Homo sapiens: one gene and its partner. The protein of the gene in region 2 purifies or fractionates together with the protein of the main gene of each other region. This does not show direct contact. Each region holds a gene or a part of one and is shown on either strand. Other genes may lie near its edges.

Region 1 (3,749 bases), on a different chromosome or scaffold from region 2:
TGAAAACTGTTTAACTTACATAACAAAAAGAAAAAAAAAGGGCCAGGCGTGGTGGCCCACACCTGTAATCCCAGCACTTTGGGAGGCCAAGGCGGATGGATCACGAGGTCAGGAGATCAAGACCATCCTGGCTAATATGGTGAAACCCCATCTCTACTAAAAGTACAAAAAATTAGCCGGGCATGGTGGCAGGCACCTGTAATCCCAACTACTCGGGAGGCTGAGGCAGGGATTGCAGTGAGCCGAGATCGTGCCATTGAGCCACTGCGCTCCAGCCTGGACAACAGAGAGACTCCATCTCAAAAAGAAAAAGAAAAAGAAAAAGAAAAAAAGATATAGTCTACGTCAAAGAATTTCTCCTCCAAACAAAAACCAATGAATATAAGTATATGTCTTGTTTTTAAATGATACCACCAAAAAAAAAAAAAAAAACATCATCCAGATTCACCCCAAGTTGAGTTTGCCTTCGGTGAAAACCTGGGCCATATATTATTTCTGAAGTTCCTTCCACTGTGCAGACTCTGTCTCCATGAGACACTGTGCAGTAAAAGACAAAATTTACTAGAATCCCCCTACTGCTGTGCCTCTTAGAAACCTAATAGTGGCCCCCAACATAGAGAACAAGAAACTGCCAAGTTACCCTGTAAGGGTACAAGAGAACCAAACAGCACCCTCAGAGTATCTCTAGGCATCTTAACAACCTCTTTAGGAATTTCTACAAATTATAGAATAGATAAGGCATTTAATCAATTCATCTGCAGTGACACTTCTTACTTTGATATTTAACTTTTAATGAGTGAGTATACCATTTATCAAACTAGATTATAAATTCCTGATGGGTAAAGACTGGTTTATTCCCCTTTTTATCTCCAACTATCTGTGCACATAATATATACTTGTTAGAAAAAGGTAGAAAGCCGGGTTCGGTGGCTCATGCCTGTAATCCCAGCACTTTGGGAGGCCAAGGCGGGTGGATTACCTGAGGTTGGGAGTTTGAGACCAGCCTGACCAACATGGTGAAAGCGGTACCTACTAAAAATACAAAAATTAGCCGAGTGTGATGGTACAAGCCTGTAATCCCAGCTACTCTGGAGGCTGAGAGAGGAAAATCGCTGGAACCCAGGAGATGGCGATTGCACCGAGCCAAGATTGTATCACTGCACTCTAGCCTGGGCAACAACAGCGAAACTCCGTCTCAAAAAAAAAAAAAAAAGAAAGAAAGAAAGAAAGAAAGAAAGAAAGAAAGAAAGAAAGAAAGAAAGAAAGAAAGAATAAAAGACTGTAGGGTGGGCCCGGTGGCTCACACCTACAATCCCAGCACTTTGGGAGGCAGAGGCAGGTGGATCACCTGAGGTCAGGTGTTCAAAACCAGCATGGCCAACATGGTGAAACCCACTATCTACCAAAAATACAAAAATTAGGCCAGGTGCGGTGGCTCACACCTGTAATCCCAGCACTTTGGGAGGCTGAGGCAGGTGGATCATGAGGTCAGGAGCTCAAGACCATCCTGGCTAACACAGTGAAACCCTGTTTCTACTAAAAATACAAAAAAAACAAACAATTAGCCAGGCATGGTGGCACACACCTGTAGTCCCAGCTACTTGGGAGGCTGAGGCAGAATTGCTTGAACTCGCAGTGGGTTGGGGGGGGCCCAGAGGTTGCAGTGAACCAGGATCACGCCACTGAGACTCCGTCTCAAAAAAAAAATAAATAAATAAAAGGCTGTAGAAGACAGCTAGATGTGATGGTGAATCATGGTAGCGATAGCAAATTAATTTTTCTTTCCCAGTTGCATAATCTTTTTAATACCATTTAATATTTATTACTTATTTCCTCTCACAACCACTATGTAGTTTCCAAGTAATAAATTTCACTATGGACGTCACAGCACTCAGATAAAGAATTTCTGAAGGATTTCCTTCTTTCTTTTTTTTTTTTTTTGAGACGAAATCTCACTCTGTCACCCAGGCTGGAGTGCAGTGGTGCAATCTTGGCTCACTGCAGCCTCTGCCTCTTGGGATCAAGTGATTCTCCCACCTCAGCCTCCAGAGTGGCTGGGATTACAGGTGCCCGCCACCACGCCCAGCTAATTTTTGTATTTTTAGTAGAGAACGGGTTTCGTCATGTTGGCCAGGCTGGTCTCGAACTCCTGACCTCAAGTGATCCACCTGCCTTGGCCTCCCAAAGTACTAGAATTACAGGGGTGAGACACCACGCCCAGCTGATCTTTAAGTTACGTTAACCACATTTTTAAAAACTTTTGAGGCCAGGTACGGGGGCTCATGCCTGTAATCCCAGGACTTCGGGAGGCCAAGGTGGGTGGATCACCTGAGGTCAGGAGTTCAAGACCAGCCTGGGCAACATGGTGAAACCCCATCTCTACTAAACGTACAAATAATTAGCCGAGTGTGATGGCACGTGCCTGTAATCCCAGCTTCTCGGAAGGCTGAGGCACCAGAATTCCTTGAACCCAGGAGGCAGAGGTTGTAGTGAGCCGAGATCGTGCCACTGCACTCCAGCTTGGGCGACACAGACTCCATCTCAGAAAACAAACAAACAAACAAACAAAACACAACTTTCAAGGCCAAGCATGGTGGCTCACACCTGTAATCCCAGCACTTTAGGAGGCCGAGGCGGGTGAAACACTTGAGCTTAGGAGTTCAAGACCAGCCTAGGCAACAGGGTGAAACCCTGTCTCTATCAAAAATGCAAAAAAAAATTAGCCTGGGGTGGTGGCACGTGCCTGTAATTCCAGCTACTGGGGAGGTTCAAGCAGGAGGATTGCTTGAGCCTGGGAGGTGGAGGCTGCAATGAGCCAAGACACTGCCACTGCATTCCAGCCTAGGGGACAGAGCGAGACCCTATCTCAAAAAATACAAATAAATACAAATAAAAATCAAGAAAAGAGTTTTTTGAAAAATTAAAAATTAAACACTTGTTTTTTTGTGTATTATTTCAACTACCAGAACACTTATCTGCCATTATAGAAGCACTCTAATAAAGAGGGGTCTAAATTCAAATTACAACTTCTCTTTAAGTATTAACTGTTCTAACCTCACACACTCAAGGTAACTCAAGGTAGCAGATGCAATGAGCATTTCTGTTTCTTAGTATTGCTCTAATAAAAGATATGAAAAACAGCCTGGTGGTGGCAGCATAACACAGTTTCTGAGGAAAGGTATAAAACACAATGAAAACCCCAGGAGAAACATTAGAAAAAATGTAACCAGTAGGAAAATACAGGTGATTCCGAGCAATTAAAAACATTCTAATCAAAACTTCTAAGTGAAGAAAATAGCTTTAGTCAAATTCCTAGATACAGGAGTGATGTGCTATAGGGAGAAATGAGCACAAACACTAAAACACACCTCTACCTGATTCTTTAGGTGATGTTTACCTAGCAAACATATTGAAAATGTTTATTTATAATACAGTACATACATCTGCACTCTCTTGAACACCTAATATTGTGTCTCCCATTGCTGGCGTGCAATGTTTACTTACTGAATGATTGAATAAGGTAGTTCCAGAAAAAATATACATGTGGCCGGGCGTAATCCCACCTACTCAGGAGGCTGAGGCAGGAGAATCGCTTGAACCCAGGAGGCAGAGGTTGCAGTGAGCTGAGATCTCGCCACTGCACTCCAGCCTGGGCGACAGAGCGACACTCCATCTCAAAAAAAAAAAAAAAAAAGGAAGATACACATGTGTTCTGTTAAGTACTTTGTCTTTGGTAATTTACAAGTTTT
Region 2 (3,749 bases):
TAGTCCCTCTCTTTAGTCCTGGAGCTGCCCTGCCCAGTCCAGCTCCACGCTTTCCACATTGAACACCTGACCCTGTGTCCTGACCCCCATCCCAATATTATCTGAGGCTGCTCAGATTCTCAGTCTTGCTGCACACGCACACACACACACACCCCTACCCAGCTGCTTATCTCCCAAACCAGCTCTCTTGTCCCTCCATTCTTTCTTGAGTTCATCCCATGACATCAACACACCCATATGTCTGGGATCCACATCTTTGCAGCCGTCTTGACAACTCTTCAGCCAAAAGAGGCCCTCCTTAGTCCTTCACCGGGGTTTCCTGATCACTCTAGCTGAGTTCTTTTTCAGCTCCTCCATCCACTTTCCTCAGGCCTGAACTCTTCTCCTTCCACATCAGCCCTTCCCAGCCGCTCCACCCCTCCAGCCTGGCTTAACTTCCCCCAGCCTCCCAGCCCACCCCGAAGCCTCTTCAGCCTGCCCGACCCCTCACCCTTGTGCAGCCCGGTGTACTTGTCCTTGATGACAGTCAGCTCAAAGATCCGACCAAACTGTTCGAAGATGGGCTTCAGGTCCTTCTCCTCCAGATGCCTCGGGATCTGCCCCACAAACAGCTTGATGGCATCCGGCTCCTTCATTGAGGCGGCCCAGGAGGAGGGGCCGAGGGGAGCAGGGAGAGGCCCAAAGGCCAAGGGGAGCTGCCCAGCAAGGAGATAAGTGGTGGGGCCCGGGGGCCCAGCTGGGGCTGGCTTTCCCTTTGGCCCCCAACCACGCTGCTAAGCAGAGGGGCGGCTCTTCACACAAAGGAGGCCCAGGGAGTTGAGTGCTAGGGGTCAGGGGTCTAGGCAGACGCTGTCATGCCACCAGGGGGCATCGCCTAAACAAACGATCTCCCTCCCAGAGATCTGGCAAATGTCCCAGGATGGGGGTGAGTATGGCCAAGACCTGGAGGGTTAGGTGGTAGCCGGGGGTGCTAGGGCTTAGAGGGCTGGGAACTGGGAGTTGAGATGAGAGCTGGAGGCGGGGAAAGGGCCTGAGGAGGGTGATGGGGAGGAGACTGAGGGGTTAAGGGGCCTGCTATGGTTGCCAGCAGCGTCAGTAAGGGGGGCCCACTCCTGATGTGGGGCAGGTGAATCTCTCGTTGGCTTCCCTGGGAGGACACCTCCCCTGTGGCGGATCCTTCTGCTGGGTCCGAAGATCCCTGATGCCAGATGCTTGATCTCTGATGGCGGCAGGGCTCCAGGGGTCCCTTTTGCCCTGCCGCCCCCCTTCAGGTCCTCCCCTCAGCCCCCCTCCCACCCCCACCCCAGTCCCCGGGCCTGGGCTGCTGCCGGCTGCTCCCGCCGCTGGGGCTGCCTGCTTTCCCGGTCACCTGGGTCCCGGAGCTCTGCTCTCCGGCCGCGCTCTCCTCAACAAAAACCTCCCCCCTCCACACCCCCCTCCCCACTCCCACCTCCTTTCCCCTGACATCAGTGATGTCAGTCTCAGGGGTCGAATACAAATTCTCTACCCTGGAGAGGGACGCACAATCCAGGCACGAGCCACGCCCTCTTTCTATCTCCATCCTCCCTGACTCCCTTCCCGCCCCCAGAAGAGCAGCTGGTCCTGTTGATAATAACCCTTCCCCCATCTTACTCCCCAGTCAGGAGTTGGGCAAAGCACTAAGATGGAGAATTTATAGAGGAACCCTAAAGTGGGGTCCATTGTTCCGGGGGCTGGAGCTGTCCCCGGTGCTGGAAGACTCAGCAGATGGGGGGTGGCGGGGAAAGAGGGGAGCCCGGCATCTGGGGAGCCCCAAGAGTAGAGAGTCAAGGAAAGAAATCAGGGGAAAGAAAAATGAGAAAGGACGGTTGCATAGGCTGAAGGGAAAGGAGATATAGATGGAGAGGGAAGCAGGTCGCAGAGTCTGGGGGAAAAAGAAAAAATGCAGAGAGGAAAAATGGAAAGGGACGTGGAGAAGGAGGAGCAGGATGAGAAGAATGCAGAAAGAGAACTGTATATTTTCCAGAAAAGGAACCAAGAAAAACGATAGCTTTCTGGCATTTGCCGATGCCCCCTTCTCTCCCTCTGGGGGGTTTGTGTGTATAAGTGCGTGGGCAGGGAGGCCGCGGAGGCGGCGCCGCGGGCGCTCTCACTTGTAAGCTCCTTGAAGACCAGGACACCGTTTAATTCAGCATCTTACTGTTCACAGTGTCTAGCACCCTGTCTTGCTCATGCGTAGCAGGAGCTTAACAAACACTCCATGCAAACAACCTCTGACAACAGTGGATTCCTGATTCCTTCAGTGGGAAGAACCACAGCTGTCAAGCTTCCCCTTAGGATGCAGAAACCCAATTACTCTTTCCTTTGCTTCTTTCTTCAGTTGGGTTCTTTGAGTTGGACTCAAATTGAGCCAGGTAGCACAGAAGAGCAGGGGAGGCACATTCGGGGACCATTGCTCCCCTGACCATGGATACTTCTATGGATGATTGGCAGGCTCCACGATCTGGAGGGAGCGTGACCCCTCCATGCACTGGGCCCACTCAGAGCACGCCCTCAGTGCAGGGATTATCTGTGGACATCAAACCTTGTCAGTGGTGGTAGCCCTTGCTTTCTGTCAGTGCTCAGCAACGGGGGCTCTCCTGGGGCTCTGGGCTTTTGTAGAGCACCCTGTCTTCCTGTCATTCCCTTCTTCTCCCCCGGGGTAGGGCTGCTGTTTCCACAGAGGCACTCGTGTCTCTAAACTGTGTCCCAGCTGAGTCCCAGGGGCCTCCATTCCTGAGCTATCACGGCAGGCAGGCTTCTCTTCTGGAAGGGAAATAATAGTAACAGCCAGTGCTTACATGGCTCTTACAGTGTCCCAGGCTTTGTGCCAAGTGCTTTATATTTACTAACTCCTAAACCCTCACCACCCCCCTATGATGTAGATTTTGTCATCTCCAAATAGAGAGGAGGTAACCAAGACACAGAGCTGAAATAACTTGCCTAAAGCCATGCAGCTAGAAAGAGGTCTAGCTGAGACTGGAGCCTGGGCAGTCTGGCTCCTGAGTCCACGCATTTAACTCCCACATCAAACATTCCTCTTGAGAATGGGAGCAGTGGTGAAGTCTGGCCTTTCTTCCTCTTCTGTCTCCATTTAAGCCCTGGATGAGAGAGAGTCTTTCTTTTTACTGCTTGATTCTGTGGACCACCTCCCATCCTTCCTTAGCCTGTTTTTTTGTTGTGGCCTGGAGCCACGCTCTGGCAGGTGCTTGCATTTGAGTGAATGTGTATGTGTGTAGACTTGATTACACTTCATCACATGGATGCCCGGGTCCCCCAAGTAGGGTCCCCTAAGATGGGGTGGCAGTGGGGGGAGGTGCTAGAGGACTCAGTGGTGGGTGCTCAGAAGAAGCGAATGACGGCAGAGCCAGGGAATCAAGAAGGGCACACACATCTTGAAAGTAACTTTCCACTCACCTACCCCACCCCCACTGCTCCTTTCCTTGCCTTCTAATCTGATCTTGGTATTTATGGAGATGCTAAACAGATCATGTCCTCTGAGGATGGAGAAGGGGAAGACCCTATGGCCCTGTTGATCTCATTACTCTATGTCTTCTCAGCAGATCTGCCGCCCTGCTGCTCATTCAGGCTTGGGGCTAATCATATTAATTGAAATATTAAACATTCACAAAAATGAATTAAAATGAACTCCCCTCACTCCTCCTCCCAGTCAGTAATTGGGGAGACAGCTGCAGACAGCAAAATGCGTCCAGTCCTTTGCTTAGTTTGTG

What was found. The genes of interacting proteins can lie anywhere in the genome.
Region 1: the proteins of CELF3 (region 2) and MKRN1 purify together in Homo sapiens (affinity purification with mass spectrometry; 2 studies listed by BioGRID and IntAct, with this or other methods). This does not show direct contact.

The regions. Positions count from the first base shown.
Region 1 is NC_000007.14:140,472,796-140,476,544, forward strand, and holds part of MKRN1 (E3 ubiquitin-protein ligase makorin-1), read right to left. Parts: intron 1,695-3,749; exon of another isoform or gene 1,586-1,694; intron 1,033-1,585; exon of another isoform or gene 980-1,032; intron 1-979. UniProt on the Homo sapiens protein: E3 ubiquitin ligase catalyzing the covalent attachment of ubiquitin moieties onto substrate proteins. These substrates include FILIP1, p53/TP53, CDKN1A and TERT.
Region 2 is NC_000001.11:151,715,386-151,719,134, forward strand, and holds the start of CELF3 (CUGBP Elav-like family member 3), read right to left. Parts: upstream 1,419-3,749; 5' UTR 636-1,418; coding exon 491-635; exon of another isoform or gene 238-490; coding exon of another isoform or gene 234-237; intron 1-233. UniProt on the Homo sapiens protein: RNA-binding protein involved in the regulation of pre-mRNA alternative splicing. Mediates exon inclusion and/or exclusion in pre-mRNA that are subject to tissue-specific and developmentally regulated alternative splicing.